4 separate regions of the Homo sapiens genome follow, and regions 1, 3 and 4 are each linked to region 2. Evidence: fine-mapped expression QTL. Tissue or cell type: whole blood. Region 2 holds a variant in brackets; each other region holds the start of a gene. Each region is shown on its reference strand, or each on the opposite one. Region 1 holds the start of TCN1 (transcobalamin 1). Region 2 has its middle 38 kb from the start of SLC7A10. Region 3 holds the start of HPGDS (hematopoietic prostaglandin D synthase). Region 4 holds the start of CYP11A1 (cytochrome P450 family 11 subfamily A member 1).

What was found.
Region 1: it holds the start of TCN1, and the variant in region 2 is fine-mapped to the expression of TCN1 in whole blood (TOPMed, PIP above 0.99).
Region 3: it holds the start of HPGDS, and the variant in region 2 is fine-mapped to the expression of HPGDS in whole blood (TOPMed, PIP above 0.99).
Region 4: CYP11A1 starts here. The variant in region 2 is fine-mapped to the expression of CYP11A1 in whole blood (TOPMed, PIP 0.99).

What each region holds. Positions count from the first base shown.
Region 1 is chr11:59,863,536-59,869,323 of GRCh38, reverse strand. TCN1 (transcobalamin 1) reads left to right here and starts at 2,837. Exons shown (of 9, transcript NM_001062.4): 1 at 2,837-2,932; 2 at 5,238-5,417. The coding sequence starts at 2,854.
Region 2 is chr19:33,261,045-33,266,832 of GRCh38, reverse strand. No RefSeq gene overlaps it. Among named protein-coding and RNA genes, the nearest start is that of SLC7A10, 38 kb to the right of the region's middle. The variant G/A (reference allele first, on the strand shown) is at 3,191.
Region 3 is chr4:94,339,581-94,345,368 of GRCh38, reverse strand. HPGDS (hematopoietic prostaglandin D synthase) reads left to right here and starts at 2,533. Exons shown (of 6, transcript NM_014485.3): 1 at 2,533-2,574.
Region 4 is chr15:74,365,266-74,370,122 of GRCh38, reverse strand. CYP11A1 (cytochrome P450 family 11 subfamily A member 1) reads left to right here and starts at 2,477. Exons shown (of 9, transcript NM_000781.3): 1 at 2,477-2,806. The coding sequence starts at 2,538. LOC124903524 (a long non-coding RNA gene) reads right to left here and starts at 4,661. Exons shown (of 2, transcript XR_007064709.1): 1 at 4,618-4,661; 2 at 1-4,461. RefSeq lists enhancers at 549-607, 777-899, 2,321-2,345, a promoter at 125-2,527 and a silencer at 3,935-4,094.

The sequences.
Region 1 (5,788 bases), not on the chromosome of region 2:
ATCCAAAGGAAGCAAAAGCAGTGTTTCAAAGAAATATATGTACTCCCGAATGGGCACGGTGGCTCACGCCTGTAATCGCAGCACTTTGGGAGGCTGAGGTGGGTGGATCACCTGAGGTCAGGAGTTTAAGACCAGCCTGATCAACATGTTGAAACCCTGTCTCTACTAAAAAAAAATAGAAAAGTTAGCCGGTGTGGTGGCAGATACCTGTAATCCCAGCTACTCTGGAGGCTGAGGCAGGAAAATCACTTGGACCCGGGAGGTGGAGTTTCCAGTGAGCTGAGATTGCACCATTGCACTCCAGCTTGGGCGACAAGAGAGAAACTCTGTCTCAAAAACAAACAAACAAACAAACAAACAAACAAAAATATATATTATATAAAATATGTACTCCCATGTTCATTGCAGCATTATTCACAATATCAAAGACATAGAAACAACCTACATATCTGTTGATGGATGAAGGGATAAAAATTGTGATTTATATACACACACACATATATGTGTGTGTGTGTATATATATATTTATATTTATATAATAGAATAGTATTCAGCCATAAAAAAGAAGGAAATAGTGCCCTTTGAGACAGCATGGATGAACCTGAAGAATATCATGCTAAATGAAATAAGTCACAGACAAATACTATGATCTCATTTATATGTAGATTCTAAAAATTATCAAATACATGGAAACAGAGAGTAGAATGGTGGTTTCCACATAAGTTTTATATAAATATGTGAGAGAGAGAAAGAGATTTATTCCAAGGAGTTGATTCATGCCCTTATGGAGGCTAAGAAGTCCCACAGTCTACTGTCTGCATGCAGTAAAAGTCAGTGGAGTGATTCAGGCCAAACTGAAAGCCCAAGAACCAGGGGAGCCGATGGTGTAAATCTCAGTTTGAGGGCTGGAGAAGATAAGATGTCCTAGCTCAAACAGGCTGGCAGGAAGCAAAAAAAGGGTGAATTCCCCCTTCCTTCACCATTTTATTCTATTCAGGGTCTCAATAGATTGATTGATGCACACCTACATTGGAGACGGCATTCTACTTTCCAGAGTCCACCAATTAAAATGCTAATCCTATCTGGAAACACCCTCACAGATACATCGAGAAATAGTGTTTAATCTGGGCACTCAGGTGCCAGTCAAGTTGACACAGAAAATTAACCATCACAGAGGTACAATGCAAATAGTGGCTCATTAAGTCATGACATCCTTAGCTAGGCTGACAGTATTCTCTAATAGTTCTCAGAAGAACTGTGATAGGCAACACTTCTCACATGTAGCAACTGCCCTGGCAGGGCAGAAATTCACATTTGATGTATAGCTCTCTGGTTTTCCTCCTTGGTTAGGAAACTCTCATGGAATCTATCTTAGGAGAAAAATCATAGTTTGGAAACCACTATGCCAAAGATCCCCTCATGTGCTGGGTTCTCCAATACTGCCTGCTTCAATTTCAGACTTACAACTTTTACTTCCGTTTTTAAATTTTTTTATTTCAATTTTTGTAGGTACATAGTAGGTGTATATATTTATGGGGCTCATGAAATGTTTTGATACAGGCATGCAATGCGTAATAATCACATCATAGAGAAGGGGGTATTCATCCTGTCAAGCATTTATCCTTTACGTTACAAACAATCCAGTTATACTATTAGTTATTTAAAATGTACAATTAAATTATTATTGACTATAGTCACCCTGTTATGCTACCAATAGTAGGTCTTATTCATTCTTTCCAATATTTTGTACCCATTAACCCTCCGCATCTCCTTCCCACCACTAGCCTTCCCAGCCCCCAGTAACCATCTTTTCATTCTCTATCTCTATGAATTCAATTGTTTTGATTTTTAGATCCCACAAATAAGTGAGAACATGCAATGTATGTCTTTCTGTGCCTGGCTTATTTCACTTAACATAATTATCTCCAGTTCCATCCATTTTGTCACAACTGACAGGATTTCATTCTTTTATATGGCTGAATAGTACTCCATTGTGTATATGTACATTTGCTGTGTTCATTTATCTGTTGATAGACACTTAGCTTGCTTCCAAATCTTGGTTATTGTAAACAGTGCTGCAACAAACATGGGAGTGCAGATATCTCTTCAATATACTGGTCTTCTTTCTTTTGGGTATATAGCCAGCAGTGGGATTGCTGGATCATATGGTAGCTCTATGTTTAGTTTTTTGAGGAAGCTCCAAACTGTTCTCCATAGTGATTGTACTAATTTACATTCCCACCAACAGTGTACAAGGCTTCCCTTTTCTCTACATCCGTGCCAGCATTTGTTATTGCCTGTGTTTTGAATAAAGCCATTTTTAGCTGAGATGAGAGGATATCTCATTGTAGCTTTGATTTCCATTTATCTGATGATCAATGATGTTAAGCACCTTTTCAAGCACTTTTTCATATGCCTGCTTCCCATTTGGATGTCTTCTTTTACTTCCATTTTTATATGTTGTATGTGTTTGCATGATCAAATCTACTTTATCAGGAAACATAAAACATAAAGTGAAACGGAAAAAAAAGGAAAGATTATAGGAAACAGTCATTTGCCTAATATATCTTCACTGCACGGAAGGCAAATAATAGATATGAAACCCGAAGGTTTAGGACAGGAGACAAAGGAAAGTTATTGCCTTATTCTCCCTAACCACATCCTTCAAGTCTTCTTCCTTATTTATTACATCACATGGACAAATACACTTGACCACACCTCCTGACATTGCTCAATATTTGCTTGAGTGAAAAGAGGCTGAGGCAACCTGAAGGAGGAGCTCTCATTACCTTCTGCCCATCACTTAATAAATAGCCAGCCAATTCATCAACATTCTGGTACACTGTTGGAGAGATGAGACAGTCACACCAGCTGCCCCTAGTGGGGCTCTTACTGTTTTCTTTTATTCCAAGCCAACTATGCGAGATTTGTGGTGAGTAAACTTTGAGCTAAAATTACTCTAGAGTGATAGTCTACTGAAAACTGTTGACAAGAGACTCTATGTAGAGTTACCTGAGAAAAGATCCCATTCCAGTTTCGTATGTGGTTGGACTCCATGAATGATGAAAAGGGTGGCAGGAGATGGTGAGGAAAGTCTCACAATGCATGTTGTTGTAAGAGGAATTATAGATTGTGTATTCACTTGCCTAACTGCTCTTTCTATGCTCAGATCCTCTCTAGCACAGCATCCCTACCAAGTAACTCCCTATTCATGTGACTTTTCAATGACAGAAAATTTATGCTCCCAGAAACTTTTCTAGATCATGGAAAGTTATCTTTTGGTCTTGATATGCAATCTTTTTTCCCTGAAATTCAATGCATGATTTTTGGGTTAACCCCTTGTAACTACATAGAAAAAAATAATAATCTCTTTCAAATAGTGATGACTGCTGTCTTGTCATGAGTGAGTTTAGATGTTCCAAGTTGCATGTCCACCTTCCTTCAACTCTTTCCCAGGACACATGGGATAAAGTTCCATCATCTCTTGCATGGGTGTTGACCCCAGAGATTGTGTGGTTCTGTAAAAGAACTTTAAAGTAAGAGAAGGGAAAACTAAATTCAGGTTTAGTTTGATCCCTTAGTTATTGAATGACCCAACATTTCTGAATTTCTTTAGCTTCATTCATAAATAAAGGATAATGAGGGGAGACTATTGAAGCAAATTATCTCATGAAGTCTGGTGCAGTTCTCAAGTGCATGAATTCTCTTTTGTGAGACTTTACTCTGAAATTGAGCTTCAAACCAGTCCAAAGATTACTAGGTGGTACTATCTGTGCTCTCTAACCAGTAAGAAGAGAACACCACAGAAGACAGGCTTGTATACATACAGGCTAAAGCATAGACTCTTCTGACTCTGATTTTTCTTCTTGGCTTGACATTTCCCCTGTTGGATCCTAAGAATAGGGAATGGCTATGTAGGTTTTAGCTTTCAATTCATTTTAAATAATAATGATAATAATTAAATTTATCTTTGAGACTCAAGGAAGCTGATTTGAGTTGTTGATCAGGAACTAAAAAGTCTGTTTCAGGGCCAGAAAATCTGCTGAGCTGGATGGTTCCACAAAATCTCAGAGAACTGACTCACAATTGTTCCATTGTGTCTGCAACAAACCATGACCTTTCTACAATCACTCTATTCAGATCTTCTTGACTCATTCTTTTAAAGTAAAGAAAACTGGGCAAGAGAAATTACATTTCCTTGATTCTCAAGTATAGTGATAAAAACTCCAGTTGAGCTGGAAATAATAGTATGTGCAGCATTTTACAGTTTATTCGGTGGTTTCTTGTCCAATATCTGTAAGGTAAGTGTTAACAGCCACAATTTTTAAATGAGAAAACTAAGAGTAAAACAAGTTACATAAGTTATTATCCACAGTCATAAGTTAAGGAGCACAAAATGTGGCCAAAATCTGAATCCAAACCTCATGTTCTTCTCACTCTCCCACTAATCCATTAGATAATCTGGAGATATGTAGGATTTGGGGCTACTCCTCAAGATTATGGAAAAATACATTGACAAAGTGTCCTGTGTTTAAATAAATAGTAAATCTTTTTATTCTCCTCTATTTCCTTGGGAGCTATGGATTTTCCTACTTCCACAGTATAATGTGACTTCCCTCCATCTCTGGAATTGGGGCATATTGTAGGCTAAAACTGGAGAGTTTTTTACAGGCTGCATAATGCTAAATAATGATCTCGATGCCCAGCCAGCTGGGTAATCAGACAATGAAGTTTTGGGGTCAATCACCAGTATAACACAGAATTATTACCTGCATTTTCTCAACATTAACCCAGTTGATTTAGAAGATGGAGAAGGAAAGAACTGAATCCAGGAAGTAGAAAGTCCTGCTTACTGAGAGTCAGAAGACATGTAGTCTAGTTTCAGCTCAGCCTCCAATTATGGAAGTTTCTTTAAGGACAATCTATCTAAGCTTCATATACAAAATTAGGGAATGATGCTAGATTTCCCAGGCAGGAGTCTGCCAGTACACAATGATAAGTCTGCACCAGTTGTTAAAATATTAAAACATTTTCATGTTGGTTGTTAAAGGAGTAATGTCTGGCATGGGGGTGGGTTCAAGACCCACCTTTGTATTATTCCACCAACACAGTCTGCAGCCACTGGATTGGTCTAGGTCTGTGCCATATCTGTTACTAAATATTTTTATATAACCCCTGCTGCAAGTCTTACTATTTTCTGAGTATGTGTTTCTTATTTCCTTCCTTCTCTGCCACAGAGGTAAGTGAAGAAAACTACATCCGCCTAAAACCTCTGTTGAATACAATGATCCAGTCAAACTATAACAGGGGAACCAGCGCTGTCAATGTTGTGTTGTCCCTCAAACTTGTTGGAATCCAGATCCAAACCCTGATGCAAAAGATGATCCAACAAATCAAATACAATGTGAAAAGCAGATGTAAGTTGCTGTATATTCTGGAAGATTTAGAAAAAAATCTACCTATTTAAAGATTATCTGCAACTAATCCTAAAAAATTATGCATCCAAAGTATCCCTGCTACATCCCTTCTAATGGTACCAAACTTGAGGTAACAGAAACATGCCCAAAATACAATCCCATGCCATTCACCCTAGAGCTAGGTCTTGCTTCTTTTGGTCTTAAAAACCACTTTTCTTCAAGAAGCCACAAACAAAAGCTATGGATTTTTATCCATTAATGCTGTTATATAAGCTAGCTTAGTTCACAACCACATGGGAATACAGATCATAACTAAGAAAGCTGGTGATGGAAAGGCAACCATGGAACAACCCAGATTTGAACTAGGTATG
Region 2 (5,788 bases):
AATACAAATACTAGCCCAGTATGGTGACACATGCCTGTAATTCCAGCTACTCAGGAGGCTGAGGTGGGAGGATCACTTGATCCCACTAGTCTGAGGCCAGCTTGGGCAACATAGTGAGACCCTATCTCTATAAAAAATTAGCCAGGCATAATGGTGCTCACCTGTGGTCCCAGCTACTCAGAAAGCTGAGGCAGGAGAATCACTGAGTCTGCTAGTTTGAGACCAGCTTGGGCAACATAGTGAGACCCCATCTCTATAAAAAGTTAGCCAGGCATGGTGGTGCATGCCCGTAGTCCCAGCTACACAGGAGGCTGGGGCGGGAGGATCACTGGAGCCCAGGAGTTTGAGGCTGCAGTGAGCTGTGTTCGTGCCACTGCACTCCAGCCTGGGCAACAAAGCAAGACCCTATAATTAATAAATAAATAAATAAATAAATAAATAAATAAATAAATGGAAAAAGAAAACTGGAAATCAGAATAGAAGGACCCAGAAGCTGCCAGGGCCACCTCAGAAAGAATTCTGGAACACTGTTGCCTTGGGAAGATAACATCTGGCTGATGGAAGGTCAGAGGCAGGTTACCAGGGAAAGACTCCTGTTTGAAAAGAAGGTCACCGAGGCATCCCTCGTGTCTTCCCACTGCATTTGGTGCACAGCACATGACTCTGGTTCTCTCTCATTCAGGGCCTGGTTATAGCAGAAAGTCTGGCTCTCACTGAGCAAGGACCCAGATGGGGACACTCAGAGAGGTGGGAAAGAATCTCCCCCACCCCGCCAAGGAGGGATGCAGCTGTGCTGTAAGTGATGGTTAAAGCCATCTTTAAGAGAGGCAGGGCGCCATGGCTCACTCTTCTAATACCAGTGCTTTAAGAGGCTGAGGCAGGAGAATTGCTTAAGGCCAGGACTTTGAGACTAGCCTGGGCAACACAGCCATCTCTACAAAAAATACAGAAATTGGCTGGGCATGGTGGTGCCCACCTGTAGTCTCAGCTACTCAGGAGGCTGAGGTGGGAGGATCACTTGAGCCCGGCAGTTTGCAGCTGCGGTGAGCTATGATCGCACCCCAGCACTCCAGCCTGGGAGACAGAGTGAGACACTGTCTCTAAAAAGAAAGAGGGAAGAGAGAAGATGCCCGTAGCTGCTTTAGGTGACAAACGGCCTTGAAGCCGTGAAGGCCCACTCCCTTCCACAGGGAATGCAGCCCCATCTCCGCAAGCCAGTCTCTGAGGCCACCCCTTCTTGCTTCCTCCGCCAGATACCCTGCCCAGCCCCCTCCCCCAAAATGAAGCCAGGTGGGGACCCTCTGTGCTGCTGGCCTCCAGGCCCTGCCCTGCTGCCCCTGCCTTCAGCCCCTACCACCCACACCACCCTGAAACCCTTCCTCTCCCTGGCCACTGTACCTCTCCCAGACCGGCGGTTTGCCTCCAGCTGGAGCCTCCTGGAGGCTGGGAGAGAACCCCTCGCCTGGGTTAACTTTAGTGGTGATTCTAGAAGCAGGACGCTGCTGAGGAAAAGGCCAAACTGTAGCTTTGTCCGCTCCACCCCAAGCCTTTGCCTGAGCTGGAACTTTCCTCTAACAAGCCCTGTAAGAGGAGCTTCACACCATGCTCCCTGTGTGAACCATGGTACCTGTGAGTATTGGCAATGATATTATGCCAATGTGCTATTATGTGCATTTAGCATAAAAGCCACTTGTAAGTAGTCACGTGGCAAGACCACGGCTGGGGCCCAGAGAATCCTGCTGGGGGCCCATAACATGGGATTGGCCCCCTGGAGCTAAGGCCAGGGCTGCAGTGCAGGAGGCCCACACCCGCAGGGGATCCTGCCCGAGGGGCAGGGCTGGATGAGAGGCAGTGAGCCCAGAGCATAGACAGAAGACAGTGGGCGTGTGTGTGTCTTGGTCACTGCGTGCGTCTCTAGGTAACTTTGGTTTGCACGTTTGTGAGGTTGAGCGTCTGTCAATGTGAGTTTCCGTGCATGGCTGGTGACTGCATTTGTGTGTCTGTGCATGGGCCTGGGTACATCCGTGTCTCTCGGTGTGTTTATGGATCTGTTCATTCAATCACTGCCTGGTGCGGCCAGGCCCTAGACAGACTGGAGGGCTCGGTCCCTGCCCCATCAGGCCCACAGTCTGGCAGGAGGTGAGCAGGAAGTAGGAATTACACCCATAATCCCTAGGCAGGATGGTGACAGGGGGAGCTCACGCCTCGAGGGTGGAAGCCCCGAGACAAGGGACCTGCTGCAGCTTGGCACTCGGGGACCCTGGATGCTTTCATGAAGGACAGGAAAGCCGAGTGCCATAGGAGGCATGGGAGTTGTCATGGGGAGGAGAGTTTTCCAGGCAGAGGGGAGAGCATTTGCAAAAGCCGGGGCACTGAGGAGGGGTCGAGGCAGAACTGCAGGTGCTAGGAAGCCAAGGGGTGTGGGAGGTGAGGGCAGGAAGGACAGGAGCTAGACACGCAAGCCTGGAGGCCACCATGATAATGGTGGCTGCTTCCTAGAACCGTGGGAAGGTGAAGTTCGGAAAGCAGCCCGATCATGTGGTCATTTAATAATACGACCATTCTGGGCCGGGCACGGTGGCTCACGCCTGTAATCCCAGCACTTTGGGAGGCCAAGGCGGGCAGATCACGAGGTCAGGAGATCGAGACCATCCCGGCTAACACAGTGAAACCCCATCTCCACTAAAAATACAAAAAATTAGCCGGGGGTGGTGGCGGGCACCTGTAGTCCCAGCTACTCGGGAGGCTGAGGCAGGAGAATGGCGTGAACCTGGGAGGCGGAGCTTGCAGTGAGCTGACACTGCACCACTGCACTCCAGCCTGGGCGACAGAGCAAGACTCCATCTCAAAAAAATAAAATAAAATAAAATAATAATAATAATATGGCCACTCTGTTGGCTAAGAGCCTGGATGAGGCCAGAGCTGCCATCCCATGAAGAGAGATGGTGGCTGGGGACGTGGGGCGGCAGGGGAAGACGTGGACAGGTGCGGGCATGCAGAGGCAATGGAAGGGTGACAGGCAAGGCCTGGCGACGGCTCAGGTGTCAAGGGCCAGGAGGTGTACATGCTGTGTGTGCACACGTGTGCACGTGAGCCTGTACAAACGCCTGCCAGGAGCTCAGGCCAGGCCCTCTCTCCTCTCCCTCTCCCCTCTCCAATCTCTTGCCCGTGTCCCCCACAGCCTCGCCGC[G/A]GACATGACAGTGACGGTAAGAAGGACTCAGTGTTGCAACTGCATTTCCTCTCGAACCCAGGGCCGCCAGAGATTAGCTGAGAGCCCCGTGTGCACTGGGCGATAACACCCCCACCACTCCCCCCGCTTCCTAATCTCTGATTCATTTCCAACTGATAACAGCATGAGGGCCCATGGGCGACGAAGAAACACCCCAGTGGGTCCTACCAAGGCCACTGTCAAGCCACGTGCAGGGACTCCGGGGAGCAGAGACAGGGAGGGCGAAGACCAGGGGTGATTGCAGAGGCAGAGACAGAGAGAGGAAGAAAGAGAATGAGAAGAGAGAGAGAAAATGAAAATGGGGAGAGAATGAGAGAGGGGGAGAAAGAGAGGGAGGGGAGGGCAGCGGGAATGGTCGACGGGTGCAAAAATATGGTTAGGTAGAATGACTAAGATCCAGGATTGATGCATGCAGGCCTTAATACCCAGGTGATGGGTTGATCTGTGCAGCAAACCACCATGGCACGCGTTGACCTATGTAACAAATCTGCACGTCCTGCACATGTATCCCAGAACTTAAAATAATTTTTTTAAAAAAAAGATTCAGTATTTAATAGCACAACAGGGTGATGACAGTCACCAAGAATTTACTGTACATTTAAAAATAATTAAAAGAGCATGATGAGAATGTTTGTAACACAGAGAAAAGATAAATGCTTGAGGGACGGAGACCCCATTAACCCTGATGGATCATGACACATTGCATGCCTGTATTAAAGTATGTCATGTACCCCGTAGATATATGCACCTGCTATGGACCCATACAAATAAAATAAAAAGAAAGAGGAAAGGAAAGAGAATGAAAATGAGAGACAGACAGAGAGAGAGTGAGGATAAGGGGGAGATGGAGACAGGCGGAGAGAGACAGAGAGACACAAACCCCCCAGGTCAGGGCAGGGTGACGAGGAAGAGAGAGGAAACAAGGACAGTGGTGGAGGGACAGACTGACAAATGTGTGCAGATACAGAGAGGGGCTGGGGGGTCCTGGGGGCTAGAAGGACTTACTAAAGTGATAGAGAAACAGAAAAACAGGCCAGGCACAGTGGCTCATGCCTGTAATCCCAGCACTTTGGGAGGCTGAGGCAGGCAGATTACTTGAGGTCAGGAGTTCAAGACCAGCCTGGTCAACATGGCAAAACCCCATCTCTACTAAAAATACAAAATTAGCCAGGCGTGGTGGCGCACACCTGTAATCCCAGCTACTCGGGAGGCTGAGGCAGGAGAATCGCTTGAGCCCAAGAGGTGGAGGTTGCAGTGAGCCAAGATCGTGCCACTGCACTCCAGCCTGGGCAACAGAGTGAGATTTTGTCTCAAAATAAGAAACAGAAAAACAGAGAGAAGGGACTGAGTGAGAGCAAGAAAGGGAAGAGGTGACCCAAGGTCAGGAGACAGAGGGAGTGAAAAGGAGAGAGCAAGACGGTGAGTGGTGGGGTGCGAGGCTGGATGGGCCCTCCCTGGCCCTGCCCATACTGCCTAGACACCATGGGTTAGGGCAGGACAATGATTTTACTGGCTCGACCCCTGCCAGGTACAGGCCTCAGCTGGGGCAGGGTGGCAGGGACAGCACACACCCCTGACCAGTCCAGAGAGCCCCAACCCTCAGGTGGGGCAGGCAGGGCTGTGGGCTGCACAGAGCTGAGCGGGGCGGATGGAGCCATGCTCCTTGTCCATGGACTCGGCCAGAGCCAAGGAGACAGAGCAACCCATCGGGTCTATGTGGATCCTGACGGGGTCTGGCAGGGCTGGACAGTCAAGGTTCGGGGGTCTGGGCTCAACCCCAGGGCTGTGATGGCGTGGCAGCCATCTGTGCTTTCCCAGAGCAGGCAGGAAGTGCCTGCAGGGAGCTGGAACCGCAGTGCTGGTGCTCAGGGCTGGGACAGGAGGGAGCCGGTTTCCCTCCACTCCCCTCCCCAACCGAGCACTCCCCTGGGTTCACAGTCTGGGTCATGTGGTGATGCTGAGAGTTTAGTGGAAGAGGAAATGGGAGCTCCAGGAACTACAGAGGCCCGGCCACCTCCCTTGCTCCTAAGCCCCTGCACCAGATCCCCCCTAAGTATAGAAGAGGGGTACAGACAGCTGCCCACCAGAGGGGCGCCAGGGCCTGGGAAGGATCTCACAGGCTCCTGGGCTCAGGCCTTCCTTTGGGGATGAAGAGGGTTCCCAGAGCAGCCAAGCCAGGGGCTCCGGGCTTAGCAGAGGGGAAGGGGCAGGGGGTGCCCCCTCCACCGACCCCAGTGCTCAGAGCTGGTGGGAGAAGGGGGCCCTATGCAGAGGGAACTTGACGAGCAGGTGCCAGAGAAGCAGAGGCTGAGGAGCAAATCACGAAGCCCAGGGGGACTTCACTCTGAGTGCAGAGAGGAGCCCAGGGGCACTCCCAAGCAGGGGAGCTTCAGTGCTGTTGGTGTTCTAGTATGTTCCTCCATCCCCCCCAGGCCTTCAGCCCAATGCATGAAGGCTGGCAGCACATGGGGCCCAGCCAGGGACCCCAGCTCCTTGCCCCTCCAAGCTAGGGCAGTCACCCCTCTGATTTGCCGTGCCCGCCCTGATGCCCTGCCTGCC
Region 3 (5,788 bases), not on the chromosome of region 2:
GAGCATAGATTCTTGAAGGGAAACGATTTTCCCTTCAGGTGAACTGCTAATAATATTAACAATTGCTCTCACTCATGGATCCCTAACTATGCATTAGGCACACTTTGAAGCACATATCTGTGTACTCATTTAATTCTGTAAAAGCTTATGAGAGAGTTATTACTAATATTGTTAGAATGCTCCATGAAGATTTGTTTTTGTCTGATTTTATTTAGTGCTATATCTCTATTTATTTACTTATTTATTTTTGAGATGGAGTCTCGCTCTGTCGCCAGGCTGGAGTGTAGTGGCACGCTCTCGGCTCACTGCAATCTCTGCCTCCCGGGTTCAAGCGATTCTCCTGCCTCACACTCCCGCGTAGCTGGGATTACAGGCGTGGGCCACCACACCTGGCTGATTTTTGTATTTTTAGTAGAGATGGAGTTTCACCATGTTGACCAGGATGGTCTCCATCTCCTGACCTTGTGATCCACCTGCCTCGGCCTCCCAAAGTGCTGGGATTACAGGAGTGAGCCACCGCGCCCAGCCTTATTTACTGCTATATCTCTAGCGTTCAGAACAATACCTGGCAAAGATTAGGAACAAATAAATATTTATTGTAGAATCAATCTCCATCTAAAGGTGAAGGAGCTCAGGCACAGAGAGATTAAGTTACCTGCCCAAAGGCCCACAGCTGGTAGAAGACTAGGAGAGTTAGAGCACCCCCACCTGGGCTGGGAGAAGAGACAAGAGGATGGGAAAGCTGTGCTTCCCGAGTAGAGGAGATCTGGGACCCTCTCCTGGGACCCTCTTGTGCCTCCAGGGAGGTAGAAAGACCACAGAGAAGAAGTGGCTCTGTTGGGTACTGGGCAGGTGGAATCTCAGGCAGCGTTGTGATGAAACCACCACACTGGGGCAAGAAGGTAGCAAAATGAGAATGCTACAGGAGCTGCAGAGAGCTCCTGGCGTGGAGGCCATGCACACAAGGACAATGGATGCCTCTAGAGCAGCCTCTGTTGATCGGTGACCAAGGATCAAGTGGCTGCTCCTTCCCCAATCCTTGATGTGTTACTCTGCTTTCCTCCAGCCAAAACAACTGGTCGTAAAAGATAAAATTGTAATACAAAATGAGAAAAGTGTTATTTTTTGTATACTTGATTTTTTTTTAACTGAAGCAGTCTCGTATTATATATAGGCAGCATTATGTAAGGAAAAATATTAAATGTGTCATCAGAAGGCCTAGATTTTAATCCTAGCTTGTCCCAACAAAAATTCGCAGGCAATTTACCTAATTTCCCTATGTCTCAGTTTCCTCATTTATAAAAATAGGGATTAAAAATCATTGAGGTGAGGATAAAAAGATTTTTTTGAAAATATAAGTTAAAGCTGTCAAAGATAATAAATGCATTGTGTTAATTTTGTATAGCTCCCACTCCCATCCCATTTGCACTTGATTTTGACACACATGTATCCTTTTTTGGTGGGTAAAGGGCTACACTTGCGTCTTCTCTTTTTACATACTAGTATTTACATTTATTTTCATTTCTGACGTTTATACTAAGTGGATGTAAACATATTTTTCAAAATTAAAAGCACTTTAGAAATAAGAAATATTAAATGATTGATATGTTGCTATTGTTGCCTGTGGGAGTAATTTTCTGGAAGTTGAAAGCCAGCTGGTCATTGAAATGTTTCATGGATAATCCTCAGGCTCAGTAAGGCCCAGGCAGGCATTTTATTGGATCTTTTCACTGAGCTGTCCTAATATTATAGATAAAAATAATTCCTGCACTAAGAAGTGAAACAATAAATTTCTAAAATGTCAGGCATTTGTTACTAAATTGTAAAAGGATCACAAACAAGATGAATTGGAAACTTCTACACCAGGTTTACTTTAAACACTTTGGCTTTTCTGAGAAATGAGAGTAAATGAAATAAACCAGCAACAATGCAAATTTACAGTCCTTGCAAAAACGTGAACTATAAATTAGGGTTATTCTATCATCAGATGTATATTAGTGGTCATGACATGCCTGGCACTCCTCTTAGAACTGAGGAGACAATAGTGAAAAAGACAGTGAAGTGCCTGCCTTTACAGAGCTTACATTCCACTGGGAGAAACCAAAAACAAACAAGTTAAATACACCACATTGTTAGACACTGCCTCGAAGGAACATACAGCAGGTACAGGAGAGACTGTTTCTAAAATAGAGAAGCAAGTCATGTGCACATCTGCAAAGATGATTTCATTACATTCAGGTTTTCTTATTCTCCAGGAGCCTATGGTGTAAAACTGAAAATAAGTGAACATGTAACAGTGGGCATACATATGCAGCTATAACTTTGACTTTACCTTGTATACAAATGTGTTGGTTTATTTATACCCAGATATCCTGTATAACCAGCAGTCTTCGCAGGCTTGAACTGCCTGGCATGCATGTTTTATCTAAGAAAAGAAGGAAGAGCGTTAGGTAGAAGGAAGTTGCCTGTCCTCTCACTGGCTCGTGATTATCACTTACTCGTCATATAAACCCAAGGCACAGTCACATACCCAGGGATACAAGACACTGCAGACTCCCGAGAGACATAACACAGGTAAGTCATATTACTGAACTCCACATAGGTAATAAATGAGATATGCTTTACTCTTTACTTCAGAGTTTTTATTATTCTCATATCCTGTTTGTGACTAACTGTCTTGTGAGCTATTTTCATGATGGTGCTCACTCTGACCTTGTCTTACCCAGAACCTCTCCATATATGCGAATATGTGAAACTCAAATAGTCATTTTTAAGGAAATATAGGTACAGGAGATTTAAGAAGATCTCTTCAAGTGGATTTTAACATAGAAAATATAATCAATGCTAGAGGAAAAATCCTGTCTTAATCAGGGTTTGTTACTACTTCCAGAATTTTCCCAAGTGATTCTTCAATAACTTGGATTGATGGAGTAGAGAATATTATCTCATGGCTGTTCAATTTCTTTCCTTTGCTTTAAAGTTTAAGACTTTTACTGGTAATATTTTATATTATTTTAAGGCACATTTTGTTGAAGCATCTCCATGTTTTGATAAGAATTGCAACCTATCATCTTTTGGCTTCAGAGATGGTTTAAGGGATTTACCCCAGGCCAGGAATTTCAACTCACAGCTCCCAAAGGATATTTCAGTTATTCCTCTTGCTTTGGCTTTAATGTGAAACAGTCACTTAAAATGACATTTAGTTGATATTTGATAAAAAAAAAAAAAATAGAGCTTTCAGCTTGCTAATTCAAAGTTAAACATCCAGTGCTTGATTGAAATCAATATCTTACTCAGTCAACAACAATTCTTCTATTTCTCTATTGTCCTATAATTTAACTCCAACCTGGCAACTTTTCCAGAATTGAACTTGAAATGCCCAGGGACACTGTGAAATGAGGGAAATTAACATTCTTTACCATCAAATGTTAGGGGTAATAAAAAGCTGTTTTAATGTCAGTATATGCAAGAAGTTCCCCTGTGAACAATAGTATCTCACATGATTGCTGTCTGAATCCAATTTTTACATTTCAGAACACCAGGGTCTATATAATAGGAGTGTAAACATGCTCTAGGCCATTACATTTTGTATAAGTTTATTACTGGGCAAGTTAAGATCTGCATCTTAAACTCAAAGAAGAGCTATAGCAAATTCACAAGTAATCTTTGTTTTTATATCTCTAACTCAGATTATTGCGCAATTACTAAGCATGTAAAAAACTGTGTCTGGAATGCCCAAATATGTTTGAATTCTTGATGTGTCGTATTTAAGAGTAAGAGCTTACGTTGGCTAACATTTTGTATTGAACTGTAGAATGGTCAATACTTAATTCCTCATTTGTAAGTTTTCTATCTAACAAAATTATTCCAAAAGTTCTCTTTTTTGAACTAAAAATATTTCGGCTGAAGTCTTTATTAAGATGTTTAGTATAGGCATTGGATATTGATTAGCCTGTGTTGTCAGAGAGTTGAAATTGGATTGTTGTCATCTTTCTGGCACAGAGACTAGAATTTTTGAGACTATTTTTTACTGTGCTTTTACAGCAGTATACGGAATAATATATTGTTAAATTGTTTTATTATAAAAGTTTGTAATTTTTTCAATGATTATGTTAAAATTGCCTCTGGGATTGAATTAATCAGATGAAATAAATCAGCATTGTATTAGTTAGTTTTCACGCTGCTGATTAAGACATACCTGAGACTGGGTAATTTATAAAGAAAAAAAAGTTTGGCCGGGCGAGGTGGCTCAGCCTGTAATCCCAACATTTTGGGAGGCCGAGGCTGGCGGATCACCTGAGGTTAGGAGGTCCTGGCCAACATGGCGAAACCACGTCTCTACTAAAAATACAAAAATTAGCTGGGCGCGGTGGTGGGCGTCTGTAATCCCAGCTACTGGGGAGGCTGAGGCAGGGAGAATCGCTTGAACCCGGGAGGCGGATGCTGCAGTGAGCCGAGATTGCGCCACTGCACTCCAGCCTGGGCGACAGAGCAAGACTCCGTCTCAAAAAAAAAAAAAGAAAGAAAAAAAAAAAGAAAAAAATTTGCCGGGCGTGGTGGTTGGTGCCTGTAATCCCAGCTACTCTGGTGGCTGCGGCAGGAGAATCGCTTGAACCCGGGAGGCAGAGGCTGCGGTGAGACGAGATCACGCCATTGCACTCCAGGCTGGGCGACAAGAGTAAAACTCCGTCTCAAAAAAAAAAAAAAAAAAAAAAAAAGGGAGGGGGGCGGGCCGGGCCCGGTGGCTCACCCCTGTAAACCCAGCACTTTGGGAGGCTGAGGCAGGCGGATCACGAGGTCAGGAGATCGAGACCACCCCGGCTAACACGGGGAAACCCCATCTCTATTAAATATACAAAAAAATTAGCTGGGCGTGGTGGCGCGTGCCTGTAGTCCCAGCTACTCGGGAAGCTGAGGCAGGAGAATGGCGTGAACCCGGGAGGTGGAGCTTGCAGTGAGTGGAGATCACGCCACTGCACTCCAGCCTGGGCGACAGAGAGAGACTCCGTCTCAAAAAAAAAAAAAAAAAAAAAAAAAAAAAAAAAAAAAAAAAAAAAGAGAAAGAAAGAAAGAAAGAAAGAAAGAAAGAAAGAAAGAAAGAAAGAAAGGTTTAGACCAGGCACAGTGGCTCACACCTGTAATCCCAGCACTTTGGGAGGCCCAGGCAGGCGGATCACAAGGTCAGATGATCGAGACCATCCTGGCCAACATGGTGAAACCCCATCTCCACTAAAAAATAAAATACAAAAATTAGCTGTATGTGGTGGCGCACACCTATAATCCTAGCTACTTGGGAGACTGAGGCAGGATAATCGCTTGAACCCAGGAGGCGGAGATTTCAGTGAGCCCAGATTGCGCCACTGCACTGCAGTTCCACATGGCTGGGGAGACCTCACCATCATAGCGGAAGAGGAAGGGATGTCTTACATGGCAGCAGGCAAGACAGAACCAGAGCCAAGTTAAAGGGGAAATCCCTTATAAAATGATCAGATCTCGTGAGACTTATTTACTACCATGAAGTCAGTATGGGGGAAACCGCCCCCATGATTCAATTATCTCCCACCGGGTCCCTCCCATGACAAGTGGGAATTATGGGAGCTACAATTCAAGATGAGATTCTGGTGGGGATATAGCCAAACCATAACAAGCATTCTATAAAGTAAAAAAAAGCTACAAGAAAGAAAGAGAAAGAAAGGAAGTACCCAAGATAGTACTTTAAAAACACTGTTATTTCCCATATAAAAGAGCTTATTTCCTAATGCATATATTAATATTAAAAGTTAAATCT
Region 4 (4,857 bases), not on the chromosome of region 2:
ATATATTTTGAAATGTATGTATCATTCATTAATCTTCTCAATAGTCCTGAAACAGCCACTGAAAAGTTTTGAAGCAGGGCCAGTTTAATCCACTGAGCTTGGAAGCTGATCCTACACCCTGGTCAAGCTTCAGGGATGGCAGCCGCTTGTGAGAAACCCTGAGCATGAGCCACTCAGCCACCCAGCCACCCAGTCACCCAGCCACCCAGCCACCCAGTCACCCAGAAAAGCTGCTCCTGGGTGCTGCACCCTCGGAAGCTGTGAGATAATAAACATTTATTGTTTTAAGCCACTAAATTTTGGGATAATTTGTTAAGCAGCAGTAAACAGCTAATACATTCAGCCTTGTTTGGAGTGAGTGATGTGTTTCTGGAAGCTCTTTCAGAGAAGTGAGGGAGCTATTCTCCCAGAAGCCACAGCAAACCTTTCCCTGTGTTTCATTGGCCCAAACTGAATCGCTGGCCTATGCTGTGATGTGACCATGGCCATTGGAGAGGATGAGGCAATAACCTCCAGCCCGGGCCACTTCTGGGGAGGCGGTCAGTGCCCCACAACACTGGGGGAGGTGCGGAGGCCTGAACGGAAGTTGGGGTGGCTGCCAAGAGGACCACAAGTTCTTCCATGCCACATCGATTAGGGCTCCTTCTGAGGGAGGAATGTGGGGCTGCGTAGAACAATGGGATTGACTTTAAGTCAGAAAGTTATAAATGTCACCTCAGTGCTGAGACCCTTGGAGGAAAAACTAGTCCTTGGAAGACTGCTTTTCTTTGTGGAAGCTCATCACCCTGCCGCTGCTCGTGAGACACTGCCTTCCTTGGCTGATGTCATTCCAGGCTCAAGGTCATCAGTGAGGCAAAACAGGCTTTCTCCATACTCTCTTTATCAGAAGGTTCATGACTGATGAGGTAGTGGTCACTCCAGCGGGAAGAGCAACAACCACTCTTGATAAGTACTTTTTTTTTTTCTTCTAAAAACTGTTGCTCTAAATTTGTTGAAAGTGGTTCAACAGTATTGGAGTCTGGGGTCAAGTGGCTGTGTAAGGACAACTTTTGCCATTGTGGGTGATCTATGGGCTGACACATACAACAGAAGAGGCCAGGAGGATGTCACTCGTGTGTGTGTGTGTGTGTGTGTGTTTGGTAACAGCTCTATTGAGATATAATTCACACACCATACAATTCACCCATTTAAAGTATGCAATTCAATGGCTTTTAGTGTATCAGAGAGTTGTTCAATAATTACCACAATATACTTTAGAATATTTTCATTTTCATCATCCTAAGAATCCCTACACACTTTATGTCCCATCCTCTAATTCCTCTATCCCCCTAGCTCTAAGCAACCACCAGTCTATTTTCTGTCTCTTAGATGTGTGTTTTAAATGCCTTATTTGCCAGAAAATAAGATTTTGGGGAAAAAAAGCAAGAAGTTGTACCTTCCAATGATAAGTATAAGGTATAGTGTAGATTGCTGTCATGAAATGCTCTACATGGCACATGTATGTTTTCTGACCTACACATTTTTACCAAGTGGGCTGTAATTTTGTTGAAATGACTTGAAAACTCTACAGGTGACTGACCCTTGTTGTTTGGGAAAGTGGTAGGTGCAGGGTGATGGGGGGTGGGTGTGGGGGCTGACCTGGGCTGGAAGGATGGGTCTGGGGATATGATATGATGGGAGGGGGTATGGAAGCAGCTCTGAGGGGAAAGCAGCACAGATCAAGTGTGTGGACAGGGAAGAGCTGACATCCTGAGTTCCATGGCAACCAGATTTGCCAAGGTCTTAGAGTGTGTCCAGAGTGGAGCCTGACCACAGACCTCAGCTCAAGGGACCCAGAGCCCCTCTGAGTCAGCTGTACTGAATTACAGCCCCAAATCTGGGTCAACTGGGGAGAGACGACGAGGATTAGGGTTCCAAGGTGAAACTGTGCCATTGCGCTCCAGCCTGGGCAACAAGAATGAAACTCTCTTAAAATAAAATAAAATAAAATAAAATAAAATAAAATAAAATAGCCTAAGGATGCATTTCTCAGAACTTATCCCTGTTGTTCAATGATGTGTGTCTATACAGTGGGGCCATAACTAAGACGTATGTTGCCCAAGCTGGCAAGATAGCTCTGACCTTCTCTTGGGCCCCTCATTTCCCCCAAACACAGGTTGTCTGCAGTCTTGACCAATGGCTGCCAGGGCATGGACTCCGCTGCAGGGGCCAGTGGGAGGCCCCAGCTCAGGCAAAAGCACAGGCAGATATTTCAGGAGTCTGCTAGGGCTGGCACTGAGGGCAGAGACAGAGGGGTCTCCCTGTCCTTTGGAGAACCTCACGCTGCAGAAATTCCAGACTGAACCTTCATACCGAGTAGGGGAGGAGCTGTCTGCGGGTTTGAGCCTGCAGCAGGAGGAAGGACGTGAACATTTTATCAGCTTCTGGTATGGCCTTGAGCTGGTAGTTATAATCTTGGCCCTGGTGGCCCAGGGCTACAGTCATCCTAGCAGTCCCCGCTGAAGTGGAGCAGGTACAGTCACAGCTGTGGGGACAGCATGCTGGCCAAGGGTCTTCCCCCACGCTCAGTCCTGGTCAAAGGCTGCCAGACCTTTCTGAGTGCCCCCAGGGAGGGGCTGGGGCGTCTCAGGGTGCCCACTGGCGAGGGAGCTGGCATCTCCACCCGCAGTCCTCGCCCCTTCAATGAGATCCCCTCTCCTGGTGACAATGGCTGGCTAAACCTGTACCATTTCTGGAGGGAGACGGGCACACACAAAGTCCACCTTCACCATGTCCAGAATTTCCAGAAGTATGGCCCGATTTACAGGTAAGCCTGGCAGAGGGTGGGAGCCGAAGGGACAGGGAGGAGGAGGGGCCTGGGTAGCCCTGCTGTAGTCCCCACTCCCCCAACAGGCTGTTCTCTGGTTCCAAACTCCTGTCTAACTTCTTTTTTTTTTTTTTTTTTGGTAATACAATACAGAAATATATCAGGGATATTTCAAAATTCAACATTTGAATCTGTGAATGTCTTAAGTACTCTAAACCAGACATCTACTTTTGAAACAATTGGTGGCAAGACCGCCAGCCATCTGTAAGGAAGCTCTTTAATGGGTCCAAACCCCAGGTCTGGCCAGGCATGGTGGCTCACACCCATAATCCCAGCACTTTGGGAGGCCGAGGTGGGCGGATCACTTGAGATCAAGAGTTCGAGACCATCCTGGCCAACATGATGAAACCCCGTCTCTACTAAAAATACAAAAATTAGCTGGGTGTGGTGGCAGGCGCCTGTAATCCCAGCTACTCGGGAGGCTGAAGCAGGAGAATGGCTTGAACCGGAGAGGCAGAGGTTGCAGTGAGCCGAGATCGCACCATTGCAATCCAGCCTGGGCGACAGAGTGAGATTCTGTCTCAAACAAAACAAAACAACCTCCTCGGTCTGAGGAGGGGAGACTGGTGAGGCTAAGTTTTGAATTCCTGGCCCTGTAGCTGTCAGCCCAGCCAGCGAGTTTTAAAAATTGGGAGAAGGCCGGGTGCGGTGGCTCACGCTTGTAATCCCAGCACTTTGGGAGGCTGAGGCAGGCGGATCACTTGAGGACAGGAGTTCGAGATCAACCCGGCCAACATGGTGAAACCCTGTCTCTACTACAAAAATAAATAAATAAATAAATAAATAAATAAATAAAATAAAAAAAATTAGCCGGGCATGGTGGCGGGGGTCTATAATCCCAGCTACTCGGGAGGCTGAGGCAGGACACTCGCCCGAACCCAGGAGGTGGAGGTTGCAGTGAGCCGAGATCATGTCACTGCACTCCCGCCCTGGGCAACAAAAGCGAAACTCTGTCTCAAAAAAAAAAAAAAAAAAAAAATCGGGGGAGGGAGATTTGAAGGTCAGAGCACAGAGTGAAAAGGTCGCAGCGTGGTCAAGTTTGGCGCTAGCGACAGACCCAGCATTCCTCCCAGCGCACGCCGCCGCCCGGGCCGCGCTATTCCGAAATTGGGTCCGCCCTAGCGTGGCCCCCGGCCTGCTCCTGCGCTCTTCGCGGGTCGCTCACCTCCGCCTCCCCTCGACACAGCCCGAGCCCATCCGCCCCCCGGGTCGACCCGCGTTTACCTCAGGGCGAGGTCCAGGCGCTCGGCCCCGCGGAGGCGGCGGCGGCCCCACCGCAGGTCCTAGGTCCCAGTCACTCTGCCGCCAAGTTCCCCAACACGGACTCCGTGCGCTTTGAGGTGTTACGGGGGCGCTGGAGCACTGGCTTCGCTGGCCCTGCCAGGAGGCGGCGGCGAAGCAGGGAGCGACCCGGTATGCGTTTCTCTGCCCGGCCTGCGGCCCTGCAGCATCCACTCCTCGCCTCTGCTGGCCTCTGCCCTCGCTCGCTGCGTTCACCCGAGCTCACCCGAGCCCACCGGAGCCGACAGTGGCGCGCTAAGGTGACGTCCGCGCGGCCGGACCTCTCCTGTCCAACTTCTGATCTTCTTCCAGGCCTGGGATGGTGGTGGGTAAAAGGGAAAGTATTCCTAGTTCCCAGGCCTGAGGCCTCAACCTTCCCCAGATCCCACTCCCTTTGAAACTCTCGGAGAGAGGTGGTTAGAGAACAAGCCCTACTAAATGCCTCCCTACATCCGTTACCCTCCGCACACCTTGCAAGCGAAGTTTGTTGTCCCCATGGTCAGAGGAGGAGACTGAGGCTCAGAGAGGTCACCCAGCTAGATTCCTGTCCTGCTGGGGTGCTGGATCTCACCCCTTGGCCCTGAGGCTCTGAGTCTGTCCCTTCCCTTTCCCAAGAATCGGGCTTGCTTCCTGCTAGGAGGAAAGGCCTTTTTTTTTTTTTTTTGTCTTTGGGCCTCTGTGCCTCCAGGGCTTGTGGCTTTTTCCTGGGA